2 separate regions of the Homo sapiens genome follow, and region 1 is linked to region 2. Evidence: fine-mapped expression QTL. A gene starts in region 2. The other region holds a variant in brackets. All regions are shown on one strand. Distances are from middle to middle.

Region 1 (5,373 bases), 95 kb after region 2:
GGCCAGTGAAAGATTTTCATTTATTCCACGAACATGTACAAAGACAAGATCCTTGTTAAGGATCTCTGGGAGTCTCAGGGACATTTGAAACACAATCCCTGCTCAAGAAGTTTAAAGATGTTACAATTCAGTGAAGAAATATGAAGTAGAAAATATCATAAAAGATTATATACTAATGCTGAAATGAACATGGGAGTGCAGATATTTCTTTGACATACAAATTTTATTTTTATTTTTAAGACAGAGTCTCGCTCTGTCACCCAGGCTGGAGTACAATGGCATGATCTCAGCTCACTGCAACCTCCGCCTCCCAGGTTCTAGAAATTCTCTCACCTCAGCCTCCCGTGTAGCTGAGACTACAGGCACACACCACCATGCCTGGCTAATTTTTTGTATTTTTAGTGTAGACGGGGTTTCACCATGTTGGTCCGGCTGGTCTTGAACTCCTGACCTCAAATGATCTGCCCGCCTCAGCTTCCCAAAGTGCTGGGTCAGGCGTGAGCCACCATGCCCAGTCTGACACGCCAATTTTAATACCTTTGTATATACACCCAGAAGTGGGATTGCTGGATCATATGGTAATTCTATTTTTAGTTGTGTGTGTGTTTTTTTTTTGTCTGCTTTGTTTTGTGAGATGGAGTCTCGCTCTGTTGCCCAGGCTGGAGTGCAGTGGCGCGATCTCGGTTCACTGTAACCTCTGTCTTCCAGGTGCAAGCAATTCTCCTGCCTTAGCCTCCAGAGTAGCTGGGACTACAGGCACGTGCTGCCACGCCCAGCTAATTTTTGTATTTTTAGTAGGGACGGGGTTTCACCGTGTTAGCCAGGATGGTCTCCATCTCCTGGCCTCATGATCTGCCTGCCTCGGCCTCCCAAAGTGCTGGGATTACAGGTGTGAGCCACCGTGCCCGGCCTATTTTTAGTTTTTTGAGGAACCTCCATACTATTTTTCAAAATGGCTGTACTAATTTACATTCCCACCAACAGTGTACAAGTGTTTCCATTTTTCCACATCCTTTCCAGCACCTGTTATCATTCATCATTTTGGCAATAGCCATTCTAACAGGTGTAAGGTGACATCTCATTGTGTCTTTAATTTGCATTTCCCTGATGATTAGAGATATTAAGCATTTTTTTCCTATACCTGTTGGCTATTTGTATGTCTTTTTTTGAAAAATAACTGTTCAGAACCTTTGCTGCTTTTTAAAAATCAGACTATTTTCATAACATTGATTTGTTTCTTATACTCCCATGTTCATTTCTGCATTATTTACAATAGCCAAGATATAGGAACAACCTAAGTGTTCATCGACAGATGAATGGATAAAGAGAATCTTGTATATATATGCCTACTATACAGCCATAAAGAAGGAAATTATTCCCAGTACTTTGGGAGGCCGAGGCGGGCGGATCACGAGGTCAGGAGATCGAGACCATCCTGGCTAACATGGTGAAATCCCGTGTCTACTAAAAATACAAAAAAATTAGCCGGGAGTGGTGGCGGGCGCGCCTGTAGTCCCAGCTACTTGGGAGGCTGAGGCAGGAGAATGGCGTGAACCCGGGAGGCGGAGCTTGCAGTGAGCGAGATCGTGCCACTGCACTCCAGGCTGGGTGACAGAGCGAGACTCCGTCTCAAAAAAAAAAAAAAAAAGGAAATTCTGTAATTTGTGACAATATGGATTAACCTAGAGGCCATGATACCAAGTGAAATAAGCCAGGCACAAGAAAACAATTACCACATAATCTCACTTACATGTGGAATCTAAAAAAGTTTATCTCATAGAAACAGTAGAAAGGTAGTCACCAGAGGCCGGTGGGCAGGGAGGATGGGGAAAGGGGAGATGTTGGTCAAAGTGCAAAGTTTCAGTTAGACTGCAGGAATAAGTTTTAGTGATCTAATGCACTGCATGGTGACCACAGTTAATAAGAATTGCAAAATTGCTAAAAGAATAATTTTTTAATGTTCTCATCAATGAAAAATGAAAAGTTGGTGAGGCAATGTATCTGTTAATAAGCTTTATTTAATCTTTCTACAATGTATGCATAGATCAAAACATCCCATTGTATCCTATAAATATACACAATTATTATTTGTCAATTAAATATTTTTTAAAAAGTACATACTAAGTTCCATGGATGTCTCTCCAAGTGTAGGAACTGGACCTTATACATCTTTGTATCCCAAATGTCAAGCTCAGCTTGTCACAGAGTAAGTTTACTGAATTGAAATCATTGAGAGACTGGAACTGGGTTAGGAGGAAACCAGGAAGACGACTTAAGACAGGGAGAACATGACCTGGGTCTGGCCCTAAAAAGGATAACTGGGGCCTGTATATAGGAATATGAAAAAGAGCTTTTGGCCAGGTGCGGTGGCTCACGCCTGTAATCTCAGCACTTTGGGAGTCCAAGGCAGGCGAATCACGAGGTCAGGAGGTTGAGACCATCCTGGCTAACATGGTGAAACCCTGTCTCTACTAAAAATGCAAACAACTTAGCTGGGCGTAGTGGCACGCGCCTGTAGTCCCAGCTGCTCAGGAGGCTGAGGCAGGAGAATCACTTGAACCCAGGAGCTGGATTTGCAGTGAGCCAAGATTGCGCCACTGCACTCCAGCCTGGCGACAGAGTGAGAATCTATCTCAAAAAAAAAAAAAAAAAGAAAAAGAAAAAAAAAAAAAAAAGCTTTCAGGTTAGGAGGGAGATTGTATTAATATGTACATGTGACATGTTGTAGATACTAGAATTAGAGCTTCTCAGGTCCATCAGGATCTCAGATGGGTTGTTGACTTTTACTACATGTCTACTTGGCAGTGATAGGCAGAGCTCTAGGGTTTGCAGTAAAATACATGAGTTTAAGTCATTTGAACTATTTCAACTTTTAATGTGCATGCAAGATGTCGGAAAGCTGCCAGTTTCACCTAGAAACTACCTTCTTAGGCTTGGTGAAGTGGCTCACACCTGTAATCCCAGCACTTTGGGAGGCAGAGGCAGGCAGATCACTTAAGGTCAGGAGTTCGAGACCAGCCTGGCCAACATGGTGAAACCACATGTCTACTAAAAATACAAAAGTTAGCTGGGTATGGTGGCGCAGGCCTGTAATCCCAGCTACTCGGGTAGCTGAGGCGTAAGAATCACTTAAACCCGGGAAGCGGAGGTTGCAGTGACCCGAGATTGCGC[C/G]ACTGCACTCCAGCCTGGGTGAGGAAGTGAGAGTGTCTCAAAAAAAAGTCTTCTTAAAACAACAAACAAACAAACAAACAAAAAACAAAAAGTAAGGCCAGGTGCGGTGGCTCATGTCTGCAATTCTAGCACTTTGGGAGGCTGAGATGGGTGGGTCACCTGAGCTCAGAGCTAGAGACCAGCCTGGCCAACATGGCAAAACCCCTTCTCTACTGAAAATACAAAAATTAGCCGAGTGTGTGGTGGCTTACGCCTGTAATCCCAGCTACTGGGGAAGCTCAGGCAGGAGAATCTCTTGAACCTGGGAGGCAGAGATTGCAGTAAGCCAAGATGACGCCACTGCACTCCAGCCTGGGCGACAGAGCGAGACTCCGCCTCGAAAAAAAAAAAAAAAGTAATCCCAGCACTTTGGGAGGCTGAGGCGGGAGAATCGCTCTTGAGGAGTTTGAGACCAGCCTGGGCAACATGGTGAAACCTCGTTTCTACTAAAAATAAAATTAGCCAGGCGTGGTGGCGCACGCCTGTAGTTCATGCTACTCAGGAGGCTTAGGTGGGAGGATCGCTTGAGCCCAGGAGTTCGAGGTTGCAGTGAGCTGCGATCGCATCATTGCAGGCCAGCCTGGGTGACCCAGGGAGACCCTGTCTGGAAAAAAAAAAAGCGGATAGACTAGTCCCAACTCTGAATGTTAAAAGACCAGGACTGGGTATCAGAGGACCTCCAATCCTTGCTCACCTTACCTCACTTCTCTAGGCCTGTTTCTTCCTATGATATGAGCGGGTGGCTTCCACCCTCGCTGTCTAATACAGTGGGCACTAGCCAGCCACATTTGACTATGAAATGGGTCTAGTTCGCATCGAATACACACTGGATTTCAAAGACAAAAAAAGTCAAATATCTTATGAATAAATTTAATGTTGGTTATATTTTGAAATAATATTTTGCACATTCGGGGTTAAATAAAAATATTTTAAAAATAAAATGTACCTGTTATTTTTACTCTTTTGCTGTGGCTACTAAAAATATAAATGACATATGCTGCCCTGGTCTAGATGCTCTCTAATATCCCTTTCAGCTTTAAGACTCCGCCGGGAACACGGTGGACACGTAATTCGTACGATTTGATTGTCTCGCATTGAGATACGGAAGGATTGGCCGGGAGTGAGCGGGCTGGGGCTGGGCGGGGCGGCGCGGGGCGGGCACCCCCCGCCCCCCAACCCCGCAGGAAAACACAGGCCCCTCCGGCTTTCGCTCTCGCTCTGGGAACTGGAAGGACCCCCGACTCCCGCGCAGGGTCTGGGGTTGTGCGCGTCGGGTTGCGTCTCCAGGCCGGGGGCGTCAGGGAGCCGGGGGCGGGGACGGGCGCGGGCGCAGCGGACCGGGCGGGGCCGAGCCGGGAAGCTGGTCGGTGCGTCAGCCTCACGCGGCGGGAAGGAACCGGTCCGAGGCCCCGGGCTGCCGGCGCGGGCGCCGCGGCACGTCCACAGGCTGGGTCGCGAGGTGGCGATCGCTGAGAGGCAGGAGGGCCGAGGCGGGCCTGGGAGGCGGCCCGGAGGTGGGGCGCCGCTGGGGCCGGCCCGCACGGGCTTCATCTGAGGGCGCACGGCCCGCGACCGAGCGTGCGGACTGGCCTCCCAAGCGTGGGGCGACAAGCTGCCGGAGCTGCAATGGGCCGCGGCTGGGGATTCTTGTTTGGCCTCCTGGGCGCCGTGTGGCTGCTCAGCTCGGGCCACGGAGAGGAGCAGCCCCCGGAGACAGCGGCACAGAGGTGCTTCTGCCAGGTGAGCGATGTGCGCGTTGGTGCTGAGGGTCCCGGCGCCCTCCGCGGCGTGCACTGTCCCGCACGCCCTGGCGGGTGAGCGGCTGGGGGTGCGTCCTTGCATCTCTTCCCACCGGGAATGAGACTCCGGTGCTGCTGCCCGGTGGCCGGGACTGAGTCTGGCTTGGCGTGGACCGGGCCTCCACGGCAGCCTGGACGTCGCCGCGCCCTCCGGTGCCTCGGACCAGGAGAGGGGTTGGGTGCACGCGGTTGAGTGGGTTTATGCATCTTTGTTGGTCTTATCTGCCCGGGGAGAGTGTGCACAGTGTATAATGCCCTGCCAGTATTTGCTATTTTCACAGAACCTGGATCTTTCTCACTTCTCTCTTGACCAGGAACTTGTGTACCCAGTACCTGTGCTGCGTGCATTTCGCCAGCCTTTCTG
Region 2 (5,373 bases):
CTGGGACTACAGGCGTGTGCCACTACGCCCAGCTAATTTTTGCATTTTTAGTAGAGACAGGATTTTACCATGTTGGCCAGGATGGTCTCGATCTCTTGACCTCATGATCCACCCACCTCAGCCTCCCAAAGTGCTGGAATGGTACAGGCGTGAGCCACCGTGCCTGGCCTGTACCATATTTCATCCAATCTTAGACACATCCATTGTATGACACGCCATTAATTTATATACCACTAAGAAAGAAACAATGTGGCTAATTTAAAATTATAATATCTTATCACTTGGAACTTGTAATACCTAGTGAAACAACTCTTCTATACTTAATTAGACATGGATTGTTATATCTAATTCCTGTGCAAACATTAAGAGGAAAATATAAATGAAATAAATTGGCTAAGGTATTCTTTTTTGGGGGGGGATGGAGTCTCGCTGTTGCCCAGGCTGGAGTGCAATGGCACAATCTCGGCTCACTGCAATCTCTGCCTCCCAGGTTTCAAGTGATTCTCCTGTCTCAGCCTCCCGAGTAGCTGGGACTACAGGCATGTGCCAGCACACCAGCTAATTTTTGTATTTTTTCTGAGAGACAGAGTTTCACTATGTTGGCCAGGCTGGTCTTGAACTCCTGACCTCGTGATCTGCCCGCCTTGGCCTCCCAAAGTGCTGGGATTACAGGTGTTAACCATGGTACCCGGCCAAGGTATTCTTAAACTTCTCATTCAGGCCAACGTTCCTGAATCACTTCTCAACTCAATCACTGACATCTATGTTTATCCACGTAATAGCCTTATTTGTGCCAATGAGAATATTGTTGTTGGTCAGACGCGGTGGCTCACACCTGTAATCTTAGCACTTTGGGAGGCCCAGGTGGGTGGATCACAAGGTCAGGAGTTCAAGACCAGCCTGGCCAACATGGTGAAACCCCATCTCTACTAAAAATACAAAAATTAGCTGGGTGTGGTAGTGCGCACCTGTAATTCCAGCTACTCAAGAGGCTGAGGCAGGAGAATTGCTTAATTGGAACCCAGGAGGTGGAGGTTGCAGTGAGCTGAGATCACACCACTGCACTCCAGCCTGGGCTACAGAGTAAGACTCCCTCTCAAAAAAAAAAAAAAAAAAAAAAAAAAAAAAAGAATAATGGTGAATGCAGCATTTCTTCTAAGAATCTAGAAAAATAAATAAAAATCAACCAAAGGACATACCAATGGTTCCATTAAACCAGAAGTTGAGACTGTCTCCTGGTTATCTTGGGCTCCTCATTGCCAAGTGAACCTACAGGCAAAGAAAGGGGTTAACTGTACTGGCCAGAGTAATCGACCTTGTCTATTAAGGAGAAATTGGGTTCTTATGGCCCAATGTGGGTAAGGAGGAGTATATGTGGAAAGTATGAGATCTCTGGGGGTACCTCTTACAAGCCTTGTGTTCTGTGATTTTAGAATTGCTTATGTTTCACTTTTTGCTAATTTATAAAACATACAGCAGTTTGTTGTACAGGATAAACTCACTGAAAACATTTGACCAGAAGTCTGATAAGAAAAACGGGGAGGGCCATATGCTTAAGATTAGTGGTGTGTACATAAGCATTTTTTTAAATTTTTGTTTGTTTTGAGACAGGGTCTTGCTCTGTGGCCCAGACTGGAGTGCAGTCTTGCAATCATGGCTCACAGCAGCCTCTGCCTCCCGGGCTCAGGTTATCCTCCTACCTCAGCCTCCTGAGTAGATGGGACTACAGGCACATGCCACCATGCCTGCCTAATTTTCAGTATTTTTTTTTGTAGAGACAGGTTTTTACCATGTTGCACAGACTGGTCTCAAACTCCTGGGCTCAAGAGATCCACTTGCTTAGGCCTCCCAAAATGTTGGAATTACAGGTGTGAGCCACTACGCCCAGCCATGAGTGTTTATTTTATTTATGCCTTACATATTCTTTTTTTTTTTTTTTTTTTTTTTAGAGACAGGGTCTTGCTCTATTGTCCAGGCTGGATTCAACCTTGTGGGCTCAAGTGATCCTCCTGCCTCAGCCTCTGGAGTAGCTGGGACTACGGATGCATACCACCACATTCTGCTCATGCCCTATATATTCTTTTGTATGTATGGGTGTAAAAACAGAGATAAAAACAGAGATATGGATGCCATCAACTCACTGATGTTTGAAGTTCTGAGAAAGCATAAATCAGTAAAGGAGTTAACTGAAATTTAAATCTCACAAATGAGCAAAAAATATGATTTCTGGTATATGATCTATGGGGTTCTTTGAATACTATTGCTTAAGAATAAAATACTTTGCGATTTCAATAAATTGAAAATTATGGTACAAGGCAAGGAAGGGGAGCTACTAGCTATGAGACTTTTGTAAATTATGTAACATCTCTGAACCTCTGTTTCCTCATCTGTTAAAATAGGGACAAAGTGCTACTTAGGTAAGACACTTCAGAAATGGGGCTCTGAAAAAAGTCACTTTTCTTCTCCTAACGAAAGGTTTCTAAACCTCAGCACTCCAGACATTTCAGGCCAGGTAATTCTTTGTTGTGCGGCGCTGTCCTGCGCACTGTAAGGCGTGAAGCAGTATTCCCGGCCTCTACTCACCTGTGCCCTCCACCATCTGTAGATTCCAATGACATCTCACCCCAGATGAGAGGCTGAAAATGATTCATACATTGCCAAATGTCTCCTGGGAGGCAAAACTGTTGCAGTGGAGAACCGCTGTCCTAACCCCATGTTCATCCAATAAAGGGTTTGAGGGACTGAGAAATGAAACAATAGTCCCGAAGGAGTAGAATGCAGTGGCCCCAACTCCTAGTTTCATGAAGGCAGGAACTGTGACTCAGAGGCCTGGGGATGCGGAGCTCTGAACTGCCAGCTGGTAGGAAAAGTCCTAATTAATGGATTGAATCATGAAGGGAGGGCAACAAGGAACAAATGGAGAGGGCCAGTGGCCGAGCCTTCGGTCTCAGGATCAAAGAGGCCCACACTGGTCACCACTTACGCTGCTGGGCTGACTGCTAGGTAGACGTATCTGCAGATAAACCGAGACAATGACGCGGTGGGAAAGGCCTTGGGGAGCGAGGAGGAGGAGCCGGGAGAGGCCAGCTTTGGTCCGGCGGCCACCGCCCCAGGCGCCGCGACTCGAGCCTCAGGCCCCGCCCCTCGCCCTCCTGGTCCCGCCCCCGCTCTCCGAGCCCCGCCCCTCGCCCTCCTGGTCCCGCCCCCGCTCTCCGGGCCCCGCCCCTCGCTCTCCGGGCCTGGGCGGGTGGCGCCTTGGCCTCCGCCTCCGCTCGCCTGCGCGCGGCCCTGCGTGAGGGGGCAGAGGCGAGGTGGAGGCGTTGGCGCTGCCACGTCTGGGCCGCGGTTCCCAACTGTGGCGCGGGCGGTGGAGGAGGAGGTGGGGCTGGCGCTGAAGCCGGATCCGGATCCGGTGCTGTGCACACTGGTGGGGGAGAGTCCGACGCGCCTGGCTAGGAGCGCCGACCGCAGGGCCTCTACGGGTGAGGAGGGACCGGGGCCGGGGCGCGAGAGCAGGACCGTGTGTCCTGGGGGCTGGGGCGGGCCTGCCCTCAGGTTTATCTAACAGGTGTGTCTGGTGCCCCGGCCAGGCCCCCGGGGGTGTTGTGTGGAGGAGCTGGGCGTTAATCCTCGCCAGCTGGGTGCACATGGTGTGGAGCGCGGTTCCCAGGAAGTTGAACGCACGCGCGCCTGGAGCAGAGGTTAAGGATGATGGCCAGCGGTCCGGCCATACGCTGGTCTTGGCCTGGCAGGGCTGGAACTGGGACTGGGGTCGGAACTTCGCTCCCCAGACTTTGGCGTGGGAAATGAGACAGTTGGTCGCGCTCTCTGCAGCCATCGGTTTTGAATGGGCACGAACGTCCCAGGCCCCTTCTCTTCTCCCATTCCCGGGCGCATCCCACGGTGGTCGGAGCCATTGAGGCAGCTGCTCCGAAGACCACCTCCGCACCGAGTAGGTCGGCGCTTTCCCCAGGGTACAGAGGGACATTCTTTGTCTCTTTTTCCTAGGCTCCTACCCCTAGAAATACCGAGTACTGTACTGTGATTTCTGTTGCGGGAGCTGATGTTTATGTAAGCCAAACTAATTTAAAATTTTCATACAAAATTGAACGGGCGATTATAGGATTCGTTTTGTTAGGATAATCCCTCATGAACGAATCCTAGAATGGATCTTAAGAAATTAATTTAGGCAGGATTTGCTAAATAGGGGAGAGAGCGCTAGCTGTATGGTATGATGATGTAAAGATTGGGGTCTGTTGAGGATGGTAATCGAGCTCAAGATGCGAAAACGAGGATTCTAGCCCCAAGTCACTTACTTGCTGTGTTACCTAAGGGGCAAGTCTTGGGAGTTCCAGGTGCTCCAGCTTCCTCATCGGTAGACTGGGAATAACGCCTAGATTGTAAAGGTCAAACTATCAGAAAATACTTTTGAACATTCATGCAGTTACACAATTTAATAAATATGGCCAGGTGTGTTAAAAATCTTTAACGGAATAGATTCAGAATGGATTCTTGTTATCGAAATTGTTATAAAATGAATATAAAGGAATCCGAAGTCCGCCCCTCCCCCATTCACCTGTACTTAGAAGGTTCCCCAGGAGCTCTTGAGAAATACATAGGCTGGTTTAGATTTGGCCTTAGATTGTATTTTTTAAAATTTGTAGATCGACTTTTAAAATCTTCATCTCCGGTGTCTATTACTTGTTGCTCTCCGTTGGTTGCTTCTAGCAGCAGCCTCTCTCCCCATTCGTATTCCAACCTGATACAGAGGCTCAGACGCCAAATAGTTGAAGTTTTGTTTAAAAAATATTCAATTGAGTGAAAAAATATTCAACTGATGTGATGACTAGTAAAAATGAATTTGGTGTATGCTTTCCGCGATATTGTGGCAGTTTGGGAATTTTTTTTTTTTTTTTTTTTTTTGTCCTTCTGGATTTTCTGAAATGTGACCTACAGGTAAGTCTTATTCGTTATTCATTCACTAGGCATTATTGGGCTAGGGTTAGGCTTAAACGGGTCTTCTAAACGCCTGCTAATTTAGCAGTTAATCAGAAAAGGTTCTGAGGAATACTTAAGGAGGATTAGTGTTTAAAGTTCATCTAAAAACTTTAAAGAACCTAATGATATGATGAGATTCCGCTTCACACAACTGTGCAATTTTATTCGCAGAAATTTCCTAGTTTTGCAATATCTGGGCACCTGAAGATGCTAAAAGATTATTTATATAAAATTACTTATTTAATTATGTTCTAAACCCCCTTGGAACCAGGTTTCAAGTCATATCTTGCTTCACTTTGCCCAGTACCTTAGTTGGGCACCAGCAGAATTTTACGGTTTGAGGACAGAGTGAGCTAAAGTGGGCCTTCAGTATGG

Evidence for each region. PIP is the estimated chance that this variant, and not a neighbour inherited with it, causes the effect.
Region 1: its variant is fine-mapped to the expression of GNPNAT1 in whole blood (INTERVAL, PIP 0.96).

What each region holds. Positions count from the first base shown.
Region 1 is chr14:52,694,945-52,700,317 of GRCh38, reverse strand. ERO1A (endoplasmic reticulum oxidoreductase 1 alpha) reads left to right here and starts at 4,760. Exons shown (of 16, transcript NM_014584.3): 1 at 4,760-4,950. The coding sequence starts at 4,837. RefSeq lists a silencer at 4,289-4,828 and enhancers at 5,079-5,128, 4,734-5,235. The variant C/G (reference allele first, on the strand shown) is at 3,172.
Region 2 is chr14:52,789,537-52,794,909 of GRCh38, reverse strand. It overlaps GNPNAT1 (glucosamine-phosphate N-acetyltransferase 1), which reads left to right and starts at 3,303. Exons shown (of 6, transcript NM_198066.4): 1 at 3,303-3,482. LOC105370500 (a long non-coding RNA gene) reads right to left here and starts at 3,122. Exons shown (of 3, transcript XR_943867.3): 1 at 2,584-3,122. RefSeq lists enhancers at 2,681-3,195, 3,196-3,709, 3,817-3,906, 3,987-4,076 and silencers at 3,107-3,326, 3,427-3,506.